2 separate regions of the Homo sapiens genome follow, and region 2 is reported to be linked to region 1. Evidence: microRNA targets listed by miRTarBase, many of them from high-throughput screens and not tested one by one. Region 1 holds a microRNA gene; the other region holds the end of a gene's coding sequence.
Evidence for each region. The annotated mature microRNA hsa-miR-4314 reads CUCUGGGAAAUGGGACAG and lies in region 1 at 1,567-1,584, opposite strand. An mRNA with a match to its seed (bases 2 to 7 or 8) in the 3' UTR can be bound and repressed. Matches are read on the target gene's strand: a 7mer-m8 pairs with bases 2 to 8, a 7mer-A1 pairs with bases 2 to 7 and ends in A, and an 8mer does both.

Region 1 (4,389 bases):
CTTCTCTTCATCTCACAATCCCAGCCCCCTCTGACCCTAACTTGGCCTGGGCATTGAATGACCTTCCTTCGATGGTGATGGAAGCGTGCCATCAGGGAGGAAAGCAGGGCTATGCTTCCTGGTTGACAGAAGCTGCTCCTCGGAGGTGAAAGGAAAGAGGACAGGTCCAGAAAAAGGGAATAGGAACGTGCCTGCCTCCTCACTCTCCCTGGGTCCCAAATCCTATCTTTGGAGAGTCTATCTCTGACTCTCTCATAATGCTCTTCACCTTACTCCTAACACCTTCTCCCTATCCTGCGGCTCTGACTTCTGTGATTCTATCAGCAACTAGTTCCCAATCCCAACCTCCCACGCTTATTTTCTTCAGAGCACTTAGTATCCAAAATTATAGTGAACAAATTCTTGTTTACTGTTTCTTTCACTTCTTTCCCAGCTATTCCGTAAGCTCCATGTATGTTTCATTTCTTCTCTGCCTCTGCAGTGCCTAGAACGCCGTGCACCGTGCTCACTACATATCTGAGGGAGGAACGACCTGGTTCCCAACAAACACAGTTCCACTGGAGCTCAGCCCTGCCTCCAGCCCTCTTCCTAGCTTCATTCTTTTTTGGGAGGGAAGTGAGGGTATGTACTTTATGAAATTAAAGGATAACACATAATGAAATGAATGAAGTACCCTAGACGCCCCTCAGATCAAGATAAGAACACCTCCAGCAGCCTATATGGCCTCCCTCTGCCAGGGATACTCACCAGTAGAGGTTGTCTGAGAATTGCTCAGTTTTGCTGGTTCTGGAAGTTCCTATCAATGGATAACAGAACGTATCCCCTTTAATGTCTGGCTCTTTTTGCTCAGTATCATCTTTGTGAGACTCATCCGCATTGCAGTTCATTCTTTTTATTCCTGGGTAGAATTCTATTTTATGATTATACCACAAAATATTGATCATATTAATCCATTATTTAACTTAATTCTTTTGTCTTTTTTTTTTGGAGACGGAGTCTTGCTCTGTTGCCCAGGCTGGAGTGCGGTGGCACGATCTCAACTCACTGCAACTTCCGCCTCCTGAGTTCAAGCGATTCTCCTGCCTCAGCCTCCCAAGTAGCTGGGACTACAGGCGCATGCCACCACGCCTGGCTAATTTTTGTATTTTTAGTAGAGACAAGGTTTCACCATGTTGGCCAGGCTGGTCTCGAACTCTTGAGCTCAGGTGACCCACCTGCCTTGGCTTTCTAAAGTGCTGGGATTACAGGCGTGAGCCACCACGCCCAGCTATTTAACTTAATTCTTATGCCCCAGATTTCACTCTGTCTTCTAATTTAGTTTTTTTTTTTTTTTTTTTGGGCTTCTGATTTTATATCCAACTCCAATCCCTCACCAGTGGATCCTGGCCCCACAGGAAGCAACAGATCCCCTTCTCCTACCCTGATCGTTCCTCCCCGCAGCATCTTCAGGCCTTTGGGCACCCATGTGGTCCCCGAGCCCTAGCTTCAACACCTCCCACCCTTCCAGTCACAGACTCTGGGCCCTGGGGCAGAAGGACAGGCCAGCTTTCTCACTGTGGCCACTACCTGTCCCATTTCCCAGAGAGGAATGGCCTGGAGGCTGGCCAGCTGCGCTGCCACTTAGTGCCCCTCCCCCTCCCCTCCCCCGCCCACCAGTGGCCTCAGAACCAATGCAAGTCACTCACTGCCCATGGCCCTGCTTAGTAGGGGTGCCTGGCACTGTAGCCAATGGGGACTGGCAGGAGGAAGGAGCTTATTAGTCTGATAAAGATCTGGGGACCACACCCTGCCCCCTCCCGCAACTTCCCTAGGGCCCTGGCTCAGGCTGGACTGGCTCCCCCACCCTGAAGGCGCCTTCATCCACGGCATCTTCTATCCGCCCTTTCAGAGGCAGGCCCAGTGCCCTGCCTGCTCTTCCTCCCCACCAGCTCCCAGAAGGCTTGGAGCCCAGACACCTGCTCACTCACCACCAGCTGGGCTCCGCCTGGGCCTGCCCGGCACCCACCCCGGCCACCAAGGGCAGCAGCTTTTCCAGAATTTGGCTGGCAGGCCTAGTCACCCCACCTCGCCACCTCACCACTGCACCTCGGAGGCCAGCCCTGTCCACTCCACTCTGTGCCTGGCTTCTCTTGCCTGCCTTGGGCCTTCGTGTGGCCCCTCCACGGTGTCTGGGACTGAGTGCCCCTCTTGCCTCCTGAAGAGCAGCCATGGCCACCTACAAAGTCAGGGTGGCCACAGGCACCGACCTCTTGTCGGGAACACGGGACTCCATCTCACTGACCATTGTGGGGACACAAGGAGAGAGCCATAAGCAGCTGCTGAACCACTTTGGGAGAGACTTTGCAACTGGGGCGGTAAGAGTGTGTGTGTGTGTGTGTGTGTGTGTGTGTCTGTGTGTGTGTGTGTGTGTGTCTGTGTGTGTCTGTGTGTGTCTGTGTGTCTTTGTGGCCCCGGGAGGGGTGAAGGTGCGCAGGGGGAGCCAGGTGAGCTGAGCTTGGCGAGGAGAGGCTGGAGAGCTGAGGCACAGCTCCGAAGGCAGTGGGCTCCCCAGTGGCTCTACACGCCTTGTCCAGAGCTGGCTTCCAGCCCCTCGCCCATGTCCCAGATCTCTGGGCCATCCTTCTCCATCCTGCTCCTTCATCTCTAACCCTTTCAGGCATTCCTCATCTCCCTCCCCATCCTTTTCTTCTCTCTCCCTCTTCCTCAGCCCTCTCTCCCTGTCTCTGCCTATCCTGCATCTCTCTTTTCTCAATCCTTTCCACCTGCTTTCCTTCCCCTTTGCTCTCCTCCCCTTTCTGTCTTACCCCCTCTCCCGCATCCCTCTCTCTTCCATTCTCAGTCACTCTTCCTAATTCAGCTGCCTCCTAACTGTCTCACATTTGCACTGGATTCTCTGTGACTTAAAATGGCATCAGACCAGCCTGTCCAGTGGAAGGCACGCTTTGCGGGTCCTCAGACCTGATTTTCAGTCAGACCCAGCCACCTGCTGCTAGGCGACCTTAATAGGTCACTCTATCTATGTGGCCATTCTGAATATCTGCATCTTCATTGATGAATGGGAGAAGGGGCTGGCTGGGCCTCTCCCCACTCGAAAACTGTAGAGTGGTACCCAAGTCCCCAGGGGTCTGAAGGGTTCCTGCAACCTCAGGTGCCTGGAGAGGGGAGTGGGAGAAGACAGGAGCTGGGGATGGAGAGAAGGAGGGGCTGGAGTCCTACATAGCCCTGGGTAGAGGAATCCAGTAGGAGACCCCCAAGCTGGAGAAGTCAGAAGGAAGCTCAATGATCAGGTCAATATCCTGTCCCTCCGTCAGTCCAGGGAGGTGAGCATTGCGCAGCATGAGCAGGGCCTAGGTGAGGGGCCAGAGGGGTGGGCGGCCTGGGAGCCGGGGTGAAGTCCTGCCCACTCAGCCAGGCTTGCATCCTGCCTAGGTGGGCCAGTACACCGTGCAGTGCCCTCAGGACCTGGGTGAGCTCATCATCATCCGCCTGCACAAAGAGCGGTACGCCTTCTTCCCCAAGGACCCTTGGTACTGCAACTATGTGCAGATCTGTGCCCCCAACGGCCGTATCTACCACTTCCCCGCCTACCAGTGGATGGATGGCTACGAGACCCTGGCACTCCGGGAGGCCACAGGTAAGCCCTCATCACCCTGCTCCATCCTATGGCCGTGAGGCCTCTAGCTCCAGCCTGCTACCCTGGCATGGCACCCAGGCTCCCATCAAGCCAGAGGGGGGCCCAGCCCCACCAGGGACTCCTGGGCTCTCCTGCCACTGTCACACATTTCCCTCAGTCAGTGCTGCTGCCCTGAGCTCAGCTTGGGGCTGCACATTGGAGGAAGAGAGGTGCCTGAGGCCCAGCAGCTACCCTCAGCATCCCCATCTGGCAGCAGACAGCATTCCCAGAGTGCGCTCCCCGCTACCTCTCCAGTCCTCCCTGACTCCTATAAGATGCCCGGCCACGTTAAAAATACCCCTTGTGATGCTAAGTACAGGCTCAGGACTCTCACAGGAGGCCTATTTATGATGCCAATCATATGCGCTCCAGAAAGACGCCCTGTTACTCCAGCAGGATTCTGTTACTATAACAGGATGCCCCATTATTCCAACCAGCACCTTGCTATCCCATTTAGAAGCCCTTTGAGTTCAACAGGTCTCCGTGGTGCTGCGGTCTTATAATTATGACGCCCTGGCTTTCTTTTTTTGAGACGGAGTTTCACTCTTGTTGCCCAGGCTGGAGTGCAATGGCACGATCTCGGCTCACTGCAACCTCCACCTCCCAGGTTCAAGCGATTCTCCTGCCTCAGCCTCCTGATGCTAGTTTTTGCATTTTTAGTAGAGATGGGGTTTCACTTTGTTGGCCAGGCTGGTCTCAAACTCCTGAACTCAGGT
Region 2 (4,389 bases), not on the chromosome of region 1:
AATTACTACAGCCCCCGGCGCAGGCCCAAGTTGCTGGACTGCAAGCACACCTGCTGTTCAGTGTGCCTGCAGCAGATGAGGACCAGCCAGAAGGATGTGCGGTGCCCCTGGTGCCGCGGTGTCACCAAGCTGCCTCCCGGCTTCTCCGTGTCGCAGCTCCCGGACGACCCGGAGGTCCTGGCTGTCATCGCCATTCCACACACTTCCGAACACACCCCGGTCTTCATCAAACTTCCCAGCAATGGGTGCTACATGCTGCCCCTGCCCATCTCCAAGGAGCGTGCGCTGCTGCCCGGAGACATGGGCTGCCGCCTGCTGCCCGGGAGCCAGCAGAAGTCCGTCACCGTGGTGACCATCCCTGCTGAACAGCAGCCTCTGCAAGGTGGGGCTCCCCAGGAGGCGGTGGAGGAGGAGCAGGACAGGCGGGGCGTGGTGAAAAGCTCCACCTGGTCGGGGGTGTGCACTGTCATCTTGGTGGCTTGCGTCTTGGTCTTCCTCCTCGGCATCGTGCTTCACAACATGTCTTGCATTTCTAAGCGCTTCACTGTGATATCCTGTGGCTGAAGAGGGCTGCAGGGAAGTCTCTTGTGGGTGCCAACTTAGGGGTTGAGCAGGTTGATGATGAGATCCCAGTGAGAAGATGGGGGGCAACACTGACCATTTGGTGCTGAGCGCTGGCCTCTGGGTTGCCTCTTGATTACCCCAAGACAGACACAAAGGGCAGAAGGTGCGGTCTCAACAAGATACCAGGTGAATTGTTCTGAGTGTTGATGGCAACAGCTTGGAAGATGATTGCATGCATCCTCATAATCATGTATTCAATGGACTGTAATTTATGATTTTTCAAAATCATGTTACAAGATAGACATATTCTACTTAGACGTTAAACTGTACAAGTGCGTACAATGTGACCTTCTCTAAATGCGGTAGATTCAAACAAAGATGCTCTGTAGACAAGTAGAATTAAACCTGCGAATCCGTGTAAAAATTCAGTGAAGACATGCACTGCTGGCTTCTTTATTTTTTTTTTCTTTTTATTGAAACCCAGTCTTCATTTAGTTGCTAAGGCTTTTAATACATTTTGAATGGCACCAAAACAAAATAAGTCAAAATGGACAGTCATTTTATTTGGAGGAAATATTTGAACAAGTGTCTCCAATGTGTTGTGTTTTGTCATGAACCTTCATTTTCTTCACTTGTAATTAGAGCTTGCTACGTGTTTATGGAACTGAAAGCTCAACAGGGGAGCAATAAACCGAGAAATCATGAGAAATGTCTAATCCCATGGGAAAACCTGTATGCCGATTTTCCTCAAGCCATCTCACAAAATAAGAATTTCAAATGTAAATATTGTGTATTTGTGTGTGTATGTGTGTGTGTCTAATTTGATTTACCTCAGGTGTTTGAGTCTTTGCTGAAGAATCCTGGGATGAAGACTTCATTGGGCATGAATGAGTCAAGTCTCTGAAGCGGTGGCCACTTCTTGGACATCTTGACCCAGCGAGTGGTCTCCTACACGTCACCTGCAACACTCGCTCCTCTTCTGTGTATTTAAGTCCTGCATTTTGTAAGAGGCAAATGGAGAGTAACAGAAGAGTGTCTTTTCTCCTGGTTTTGGAGTCTTGCACTGGCCATGAGTGTTGTGACTGATGGTCAACCCAGGCGGGCATTTTAATAAATGGCCTGTGATTCTTTTTTGAAAGATGCTCTTCCACAAGAGTTAAGCCAGTTAGAATTCCTGTTTCCTCTTGTTGATATGAGAGAAGATCTCCTGTATTTTAACACGTTTTTACCAAGAAAGGTGGCAAGGTAAACTAACAGCTCAAATTCCCAATATAAGTGGACCAGTTCCTCATAAACTGTCAAATGTTCTTAAATGTGTAATGATCTATAGATGCTCATGAAGAAAGATCTGCTACAAGTACGTGATAAATTCCTATCCCTGGGTGCATGTGCATTCAGAAATAGCTGTGAGCTTTACAGCTCTCATCTAACTTCTTTTATGGAATTCATGAAGCAAGTGGTATGTGACAAGGACTCCACTTATAAATATAACTGTTTTTATGTTCCACTGAATCCCTGAAAATGGTGAGGAGGGTGGGGGGAAGTGAAGGAAAGACAAGCAGGGCTAATTCCAAAAAGCAAGGCTAGAAAATAGCCCTGTGAGGTCAAGACAATTTAATTTATTTACATGCTGTCTGTTATCTTCAAGCAGCACAAAATATGCATATAAAAGTGATGGAATTAATGTGAAATAAAACAAAAATATAATGGCTAGAATACAAAGCTAATACTGCTAATTGGCATGAGAATTCAACATAAAATTGTGAGCTCTGATTTTTCAAATTGATCATAAAACCTTTAGGAAATGTATTTGAAAGCTCAAAATAGAAATTAGGTTAAAATGCCATTTTATTGTGTAAGCTCTTGGGCATTATACAACAAATAATCTAGGATTTATTTGGTATTAATAATTTAGGTGTCATATTAGCTGAATACTATCCTCTATTACATAACATAATATACTGTTGGGTTAGTGTCAATTTCTCAAACTCTCCCAGGCTGCCATAATGCATGTCTGACCTAATTTCTATTTCTCTTGGAGGAAAATACACACACACACACACCACAGAAGTGTTGCATTAAGAATGCTACATTTCGAATAGACTTTGCCCTTGCAATTTTAAGCTATGCCATATTCAGATTAATTTTGTGAGTGATATCTGCATATGTTTCTGTACAGTGTGAAATGACTGACCCTGTAGTATAGTACGTGATAGAGTTCTACTTGTTAAAGTAGGTTAGATATAGACACTAATGTGTGTGATGATAGTGTCCTGTGTTTCTTAGTGCAAATCTGTAGAGTAAAAATGTCCATAGAACTTTTACTTAAAAACAATCCCATGCTAGAGTTGCCATTAAGCAGTGCAAAATTAATCGGCTGTATGGTAGATTCTTGACCTTAAATTTAACAACAACAACCAAAATCAGATTTTTTTTGTGAGTCTTACTGACCTAAGAAACATTGTTTAAATTGTTTAAATGGATCTGCTTGCAGTTATTTGTGTACCTGTTTGTTGGGGTGTGCATTCTTGTGTATGTGTGTGTGTGTGTGTGTGTGTGTGTGTGTGTGTGTGAGAGAGAGAGAGAGAGAGAGAATCTCAGTCTCCCAGATAGAATTTTATAGGCTTAATGATGTTTTAATGTTGCTTGGCATCCCATTGCTCTGGCCTCTTCTGGCATTTACCAATGACCCTTAACAAACACATCTACCCATGTGACCAAAGTCCACTGACACAAGAGGCCAGGATTCATACTTGCACATTAATGAAAAGTCACAACTGGAAAGCACAGAAAGAGCTGAAAGCAGCCTCCGGTGGCTTCATTTTGTAGATGAGTCCGTTTTGTAATTCTGCAGAAAGGGGGGGATATGAACTTCGCACTGCAGTGTCTTCTTGCTCCATCCTAGGTCTGTCTATATCTCTATCTGGCTATGATCCTTTCTAGGGTTGATGAATACCCTTTACTGAGTCAACTATTGCTTTAAAGAATTTTTTTTGTAGGTTTATGTACTCATTTTAGTTAGCATCTACCTCTCTGGGAAAATGAAAGGAGGGTTGACTTAGGGATGAGTATAGATGTTGAAAGACAACTATCAAACCATGTGGTTTGAATTTTTAAAATTGTAAAACATTGGTGTCCAAACCTCCCACCCCACTTGTATGTAAAGGACAGTGAGTGTTGTATAAATAGTAAACTATAAGAAGCATGAATTTTCATCTTTATTAATGATCTTGAAATAAGGAAGAGAATGCTTAATATGTTAAGTAGAGCCAAGAATGCTACTAAGAAGCATTGTCTTTGGAAAAATTTTGTATAATGACTTGGGGCATAAGTTGTGATGAAAAGGCAACTTGGTTTTTGGTTCCAGTCATACTTAATGATCAGAAAGCTCTAAGATGTTTTCTTTAAAAATAGAATTAAGTTTAATTTTTTGCATGGCTTACAGATTGGGTCCCTTGAAGGTTAAACCATGTGATGGTATAACCTGTGAGATCTTCTAGATTGGCACTGTTCAATAGGGCTTTCTGTGATGATGGAAATGCTCGAAAACCTGTGCCGTCTGGTACGGTAGCCACCAGGCACATTGACTTTTAGGCAGTTAAAATGGGGTTACTACAAGGGAAGAACTGGATTTCAAATTTTATTTAATTTTAATTAGCTTAAATTTAAATAGCCCTATGTGTCTAGTGGCTGCCATATTGAACGATGCAGTTCTGGGTGATAGCGCTTGGGGATCCAGCATCAAGGTATTAATGGAGTAACAGTGAGGCTAAGGTGAGAGTTTGTGGGCTAGTGACATGCAGTTGGCAAAAGGCAAAACATTCC

Region 2: the mRNA of RNF152 is a reported target of hsa-miR-4314. Seed matches in the 3' UTR shown: 7mer-m8 at 3,168-3,174.

What each region holds. Positions count from the first base shown.
Region 1 is chr17:8,085,261-8,089,649 of GRCh38, reverse strand. It overlaps MIR4314 (microRNA 4314), which reads right to left and starts at 1,594; the gene lies at 1,503-1,594. ALOX12B (arachidonate 12-lipoxygenase, 12R type) reads left to right here and starts at 1,934. Exons shown (of 15, transcript NM_001139.3): 1 at 1,934-2,354; 2 at 3,430-3,634. The coding sequence starts at 2,208. RefSeq lists an enhancer at 2,158-2,906.
Region 2 is chr18:61,812,027-61,816,415 of GRCh38, reverse strand. RNF152 (ring finger protein 152) reads left to right here. Exons shown (of 2, transcript NM_173557.3): 2 at 1-4,389. The coding sequence ends at 564. Among named protein-coding and RNA genes, the nearest start is that of LINC01544, 66 kb to the right of the region's middle. RefSeq lists an enhancer at 1-189.